Homo sapiens: one gene and its partner. The protein of the gene in region 2 purifies or fractionates together with the protein of the main gene of each other region. This does not show direct contact. Each region holds a gene or a part of one and is shown on either strand. Other genes may lie near its edges.

Region 1 (3,750 bases), on a different chromosome or scaffold from region 2:
GGAAGTTCCAGTGAGCCGAGATTGCGCCACTGCACTCCAGCCTGGGCGGCTGAGCCAGACTCCATCTCAAAAAAAAAAAAGAAAGAAAACAAAAAAACAGTGAAGTCTAAACTTTTTAACTTGTCATGAAGACCTTTCACAATGAGGCCCTTACCTACTTTTCTAGCTTCATCTCCTGTCATACCCCAAAATATACCCTAGCACTTAACACTATCACACTGCTCTGTTATTTTGGCTTTCTGGACATTCTAAAGGCACAAATCCCATTCTGCCTTTGTTCATGCTGCACCCTTTGCTTCGAGTTCCATTTCTCTATGAAACAAAACCTTATTCATCCTTTAATGTTCACTCCAAAAATACCACCTTAATGAAGTATTTCTTATCCATACATTCAACTTTCCCTCCCTCTTCCATACTTCCATATAATTATAATAGTAACCTATCTAGTGCCAAGATCCTGTTGTGTGTTATTCTCATTTAAACCTCACAACACTACTTTGGGTAGGGTAGGTATTATACCCAATTTACAGATGGAGTAACTGAGACTTTGAGAATTTAAGTGACTATCAAGTCATCAACTTAGTAAGTGGTAGACATGATGGGCACTGCAGTCTGACTCTAGAGCTCATCTTCTTTACCACCACCTTACTCTGTCTCATTGTAAAATCTCTTCTAGAGGACATCTAACTTTATATTCAATTAAGAGAGAGACAGTAACTTGAGAGCAGAGCCCTGAGCATCTGTATTTGTCTCCTGAACACAGGATTAGGTTTTCAATAAGTGTACCCTCAATGGATGAACTAAATAATGAAATAGAACTCTTAAGAGTAATTCCACGTTCTTTAACCAAAATAGTACCCTGGTCTGATTTCAAACAATTAATTCAGCTCTTTATTATACCTAACACTTTCACCTGTTACTAAAAGCGTGAATAAATTAAAAGTATTCATTACTTAGTAAGTTCCTAGTTTTGGATGCAAATAAAACTCAGGATGGATAATTGGCTGATGACTTGAAATGCTGAACCATAAAACTGTCAAGTGACAGACTACAAATTTTTAAAAAGCATTAAACATATCTCTTGCTTGGGTTTATCTCTCACATCACTTATATGCATGGTCAGAATTTCAGAGAACCACTGAAAAATTAAAAGCTTTGCTTATATTACATTCTTGGTGTCATTTCATTTTTGCTGCAATATACTTTGCACATCCAGACCTGCAGGGGTGCAGGTGGTAGAAAAAAATCAAGCTGGTAGCTGTAATTTAAAAACTTTTGTTTTTTACAAGAAACTGTTTGCAGAGAGGAAGTAATGCATCTAGTACGGTCTGGCATATGCACATTCAGTAAAAACCTGATTAATGAGTAAATATCAAGACAAAACAAGTAAAGCATTTTGTGATTGTGATTCGTGTTAGTCTGTAAGAGAGGAAGTGGCTGGCAGCCAATATGAAGGACTGTTCCCTTTTCTAGTAGACATTCGGAGTGGACAACAATTATCCTAAAAGAAAATAACACACTTTCCCTTTTTTTGAGCATTTATTCTAAGTCTGACAACGCGTTCTGCTTGTCATTTAAGCCCACAGCATAGAAGCTATTGTTCTGCCCACTTTACAGGTAAAGAAGTCATGGCTCAGAGGCATTAAGTGACTCGCCCAAGGTCACCCTACTACAAGGCAGAGACGAAAATTCGAACCCGGACAGTCTGACTCCATAACTTGGGCTTGCAAGCCTCCAGCAGCGAGCAGCATTGTCTGTCGGGCCACAGCGCAACCCCAGGGCGCTAACGAGACACGAGAGGGAGCTTTAGGATTCCCCATCTCGCGGGGTGGGCAGGACAAGCATCAGTAACGAGGAAGACGAGGCCTGAGGAGGCTGGACCACTTTAACAAGGTCACAAAGAGTTTCTGCTCACGCTAGGGGAGCACCCCCAAATCCCTCGGGACCACTGGGGAGCCTGAGCCAGAGCTCCCCCCGCACAGAGGCGGCAGCGCCCAGCTCGCCGAGGTCAGGCCTGCGAGCAGGTCTGCTGGCCCCAGGGCGCCGGCCGCGGCGCCAAGACCGAAGTCAGGCCGCCGCATCTGCCCAGCGTTCCACCAAGGGCCTTACCGGGTCGCCAGAACTTCACCGGTCCCACGGGCGCAGCCATGTTGGGGTAAAAGGTCACGAGGCTAGCTCCACCCCACCGTCGCGCGCTAGGCCCCCAGGGCCCGGAGGGCGTGGCCCCCGAAGAGCCGCTGCCCAGACGGATCGCGCCGTGTGACGGCCACGCCCCCACAGCTACCGCCCCCGTCTGAGCCACGTGACCCACTTCCAGGCTCCGGCGAGCGCACCGGCCCCGCCCCCGAGCCCACGTGACCCTGCTCAGCCATTTTGGAGAAAAGGGCGCGCTCCTCCGCCTACCTCTTGAGCGTGGAGGGTAGATGCTTCAGGTGACCTTTTACGAGCGTGGCGTGTCCTGGATGGCGGCCGCACACTTAGGAAGAACGGGCTTTGGGAGAGGACCGCTGGCCCGAGAGTGGAACCTTGCACGCACTGGGCGTTGAAGCAGTGCTTTCTGGATTAAATACGAAATACTGATGTCACAAGCTACCTCAACTTGTCGACTTCTGTTTTATTCTCAATTTCAAATTGAAGGGTAATAATAGGAACTACCTCGTGGGTTGTATTTGTCAGTAAATATTGCGCGCCTGCTGTGGGCCCAGGTAGTGCGGCACAGTGCCCCAAATAAAACAATGCGAAATGATATGGAAGTCTTCAGGGACCTTGAGGGCAAAACGGAAAAACGGACTGGGGGTGGGGTGGAGCGAATGGGTTGGCAGAAGAGACTGAAAATGGGTAGATCAATTAAGGTAGTCCACCAACTCAGTGCTTCCTCCAATTTGATACCCTTGAGTCAAATGCTTGTTAAAAACACAGATTCTAGGCCTTGATCCAATTCTGAATCGATGTCCTGGAGCATGGCTTGGGAACCTGCATTTTGAGAAGCTCCTGAATTCTTCAGATTAACAAATTTGGGAAAGATTACACTAATCCATCAGACGAAAGGTGAGGTCAAAGAAAAAGAAATTACAGTAATCCAAAGGAGCGCTAAGAAGGGGTGATGAGCTCAAGTGGAGGAAATAACTTTCTAGGTAGGCAACTAATTGGAAGGAAGTGAGAGGCTTCAGAATCTATGCATTTTTAAAGCTGTGAAGAAAATTCTGAATTCTTTGAAAGAAGTGGCATCATTATGGCAAGAGCAGGGGCTTTTGTGGACAACCAGTCCAGACTTGGAATCGTAACTTTGCCATTTCCTAGCTCCTAGCTGTCATTTAATTTTAGTTGTAAAATGAGGTTTAAAGAGGTATTACATGAGATAACATGTAAAGTACCTAACAGTGCAAAACATAGCAGGCACTGAATCAATGTTAGCTCTCATTACCTCAACTCAGAGCAAATCCACCAGGGGGAAAAAAATCTGAATTTACCTGCATAGGTTCATGTAAGAATCTTCTTTGATTTATTTTTATAGTAATTAATGTAGGGACTCAATATCTGTTAGTCCCTCGGCCTAGAATTCTCCATCCATCCTTTAAATTATCTTTATCCCTTAAAGGGCTAGCTCTAAATTATCTATCCAACTTAAACATTCCCCCTTGTAGTCTAGGAACTGTATTCTCACTTTTGTGAGAAAAGTGACCTGTAGTTTAGTTGCCTGTAGTTTACCTGCCGCCACTATTACACAGGGAACTTACTGAGGACGAGGAC
Region 2 (3,750 bases):
CGTGAGCTGCCGCACCTGGCCTTCTCCTTCTACTTACACATGGCAGGCTCCTCTTGTCTGCCATAGGTCATGGCTCCAATCTCACCCCTCCGGGAGGCCTCCATCATCCCCTCACGGTGCCCAGATCTTGCCTTTTGTAGCACTTCAGAATTACTGTATTTCACCAACTCTCAACCCCATACCTTTTCATGCTCTAGCATATCTGAAATCACGCACCTAACGAGGAAAGAGACATCTGGGTCAGTGAAATTCGGTTCATGCCCATGTGTTGTTGGCCTGTCTACTCCTCCCCCTCATTCATTCATTTATTCATTCAACACTCATTTATTGGGCACCTGCTGTGTGCCAGGGTCTGTGCCGAGCGCCAGGAACAAAGTCCCTGGCCTCATGGAGCCCACAGTCTAATGGGAAGTGGAGAATAGTGGTAGTCAGGCAGGTGCACGGGCCCCCGAAGTCAGGCAGGAGAGAGCCCCTGGGGCAGTGGCGCAGGAGGGAGGGCTATAGGTAGCTGGGGTACGGTGACATCAGGCAAAATACTGGTGGCGCTGAGGTCTGAGGATGAAGGGTGTCGCCGGCCATGAGACTGTAGGAGCAGAGGCCTTGAGCTGGGACTGAGCTGGGGGTGTTTGCAGGATCAGACAGGAGGCGGGCGTGCTGGGCTGGGGAGCAGAGCCCGGAGTAGGAGGGGAAGAGGGGGGTGGGGCAGCATTTTTCTGTGTGGCATCTTTCCTCCTGGAGGGTGGGGTGCCCCGTAAGCACAAAGATTGCTTCTGGGAGTGCATGACAGGCAGGCCTCACCTACTCAGGGGGCTTCCCAAGCAGGCGACCCTTGGACTGAGCCCCAGGAAGATATGAATGAGAACACGAAGTTCTCAGGTAGAGGAAATTTGGACACAGGGTGGGGCAGCCTGCCTCTTGAAGGAGGGAGCTCCCCGTTGCTGGAGGCAAGCAAGCAGTGATCTTGCAGGATGCCGCAGGGACAGCCTGCCAGTGGGAGCCAGCGTCCCAAGACAGCTCACATCCCTACATGCTGCCCCGCAGGTGTAAGACGTGCGGAGAATACATCTACAAGGGGAAGAAATTCAATGCTCGGAAGGAGACGGTGCAGAACGAGGTCTACCTGGGCCTGCCCATCTTCCGCTTTTACATCAAGTGCACGCGCTGCCTGGCAGAGATCACCTTCAAGGTAGGTGAGACGGCCGGCCAGGCCGGTCCCTCTCCCCCAGCACACCTCAGATCAGGGCGGGCCCTGGGGTTCCTTAACTCCAATCCTCTCCATCCAGGGAATCTCATTTCAGTTTATCCCCAAGAAACAGACAACAGTTTGGGGGAGATGTTCATGGCAGCATTCTAAATAAAGGCAAAAAGACAGAAGCAACCTAGATAGATAATAATAAGGGATGAGAAGAACAAATTAGCATGCAGGCTGGGCATGGCTCACACCTGTACTCCCAGCACTTTGGGCGGCCAAGGCGGGCAGATCACCTGAGGTCAGAAGTTCAAGACCACCCTAGCCAACATGGCGAAATGCCATGTCTACTAAAAATACAAAAATTACTGGGCATGGTGGCGGACTATAATCCCAGTTACTCGAGAGGCTAAGGCAGGAGAATCACTTGAAGCTGGGAGGCAGAGGTTGCAGTGAGCGAAGATTGCACCGCTATACTCCAGTCTGGGTGACAGAGCAAGACTCCAACTAAAAAAAAAAAAAAAAAAAGCCAGGCACAGTGGCTCATGCCTGTAATTCCAGCAGGTTGGGAGGCCAAGGCAGGAAAGAGAGCCCCTGAGGTCAGGAGTTTGAGACCAGCCTGGCCAACATGGTGAAACCCCGTCTCTACTAAAAATACAAAAGTGAGCCAGGCGTGGTGGCTCATGCCTGTAATCTCAGGTACTTGGGAGACCAAAGCAGGAGAATCGCTTGAACCCGAGAGGGAGAGGTTGCAGTGAGCCAACATTGCGCCATTGCACTCCAGCCTGAGCAACGAAATGAAACTCTGTCTCAAAAAGAAAAAAAAAAGTAGCGTGCAATGGAATATTACACAGCCAATAAAAATTGCAATTTGACTTTTATTTGTTACCTTGAGAATTTAAGGAAAGACTGAAGATAACTTAAAATTTTCTCTTCCTATGCTTAAGTACTCTTTGAATACTTTTTTGCCATAAGCTTTTTTTCTTTGATTAAAAAAACATTTTGGGCTGGGCGCAGTGGCTCACAGCTATAATCAGCACTTTGGGAGGCCAAGGCAAGTGGATCAGTTGAGGTCAGGAGTTCGAGACCAGCCTGGACAACATGATGAAACCCCAACTCTACTAAAAAAAAATACAAAAATAGGCCGGGCGCAGTGGCTCACGCCTCTAATCCCAGTACTTTGGGAGGCTGAGGCAGGCGGATCATGAGGTCAGGAGATCGAGACCATCCTGGCTAACACAGTGAAACCCCGTCTCTACTAAAAAAAAAGCAGAAAAAAATTAGCCAGGCGTGGTGGCGGGTGCCTGTAGTCCCAGCTACTCGGGAGGCTGAGACAAGAGAATGGCGTGAACCCAGGAGGCGGAGCTTGCAGTGAGCTGAGATCGCGCCACTGCACTCCAGCCTGGGCGACAGAGCGAGACTCCGTCTCAAAAATAAATAAATAAATTAATAATAATAATAATATTTTGGCTGGGTGCAGTGGCTCACGCCTGTAATCCCAACACTTTGAGAGGTCAAGGGAGAAGGATCGCTTAAATCCAGGAATTCAAGACCAGCTTGGGCAACATAGTGAGATCCCGTCAGTACAAAAAAATATAAAAATTAGCTGGGCATGATGGCATGCGCCTATAGTCCTAGCTACTTGGGAGGCTGAGGCAGGAGAATCAATTGAGTCTGGGAGGCCAAGGCTGCAGTGAGCCATGATTTCACTGCTATACTCCAGCCTGAGTGACAGAGTGAGACCCTGTCTGCAAAAAAACAAACAAAAACTTTTTTTGAAATACCTGAAGATTTACAGAAAAGTTCCAAAGATAGTACAGATAATTCTCACCTACCCCCTCACCAACTTCCCCGAATATTAGCATCTTATATAACCAGGGTACATCTGTCACAGTAAGATACTAAGGGTGGGGCCAGGCATGGTGGCTTACTCCCAGCGCTTTGAGAAGGCAAGGCAGGAGGATTGCTGGGGACCAGAAGTTCAAGACTAGCCTGGGCAACATAGTGAGACCCTGTCCGTGTCTACACACACACACACACACACACACACACACACACACACAAATTTTAATTAAAAAAAGAAACTAAAGGTGGAATGTTACCATTAACATTGTAGGCTGTGGCTGGGTGCAGTGGCTCATGCCTGTAATCCCGGCACTTTGGAGGCCAAAGCAGGAGGATCGGTTGAGTCCAAGAGTTAGAGACCAGCCTGGGCAACATGGCGAAACCCTGTCTCTACCAAAAAGAAATTTAAAAATTAGCCAGGTGTGATGGTGCATACCTGTAGTCCCAGCTACTCGGCAGGCTAAGGTGAGAGGATTGCTTGAACCCGGGAGGCTGAGGTTGCAGTGAGCCATGATCCTGCCGCTGCACTCCGGCCTGGGCAACAGCACGAGACCCTGTCCCCAAAAAAATAAAAAACATAGTGTTACTATTAGCATTTAGACCAAAGGTAGATTTCAGTTTTTCTGCTAATGTCACTTTTCTGTTCCAGTGTGTAATTTAAGATACCAGGGTGTATTTAGCCTCTCTATTCAATAAACAAAAACAGGGGCATGCTG

Evidence for each region.
Region 1: the proteins of YJU2 (region 2) and DHX35 purify together in Homo sapiens (affinity purification with mass spectrometry; 3 studies listed by BioGRID and IntAct, with this or other methods). This does not show direct contact.

The regions. Positions count from the first base shown.
Region 1 is NC_000020.11:38,960,767-38,964,516, reverse strand, and holds the start of DHX35 (probable ATP-dependent RNA helicase DHX35), read right to left. Parts: upstream 2,174-3,750; 5' UTR 2,150-2,173; coding exon 2,110-2,149; intron 1-2,109. UniProt on the Homo sapiens protein: May be involved in pre-mRNA splicing.
Region 2 is NC_000019.10:4,249,986-4,253,735, forward strand, and holds part of YJU2 (splicing factor YJU2), read left to right. Parts: intron 1-1,041; coding exon 1,042-1,186; intron 1,187-3,750.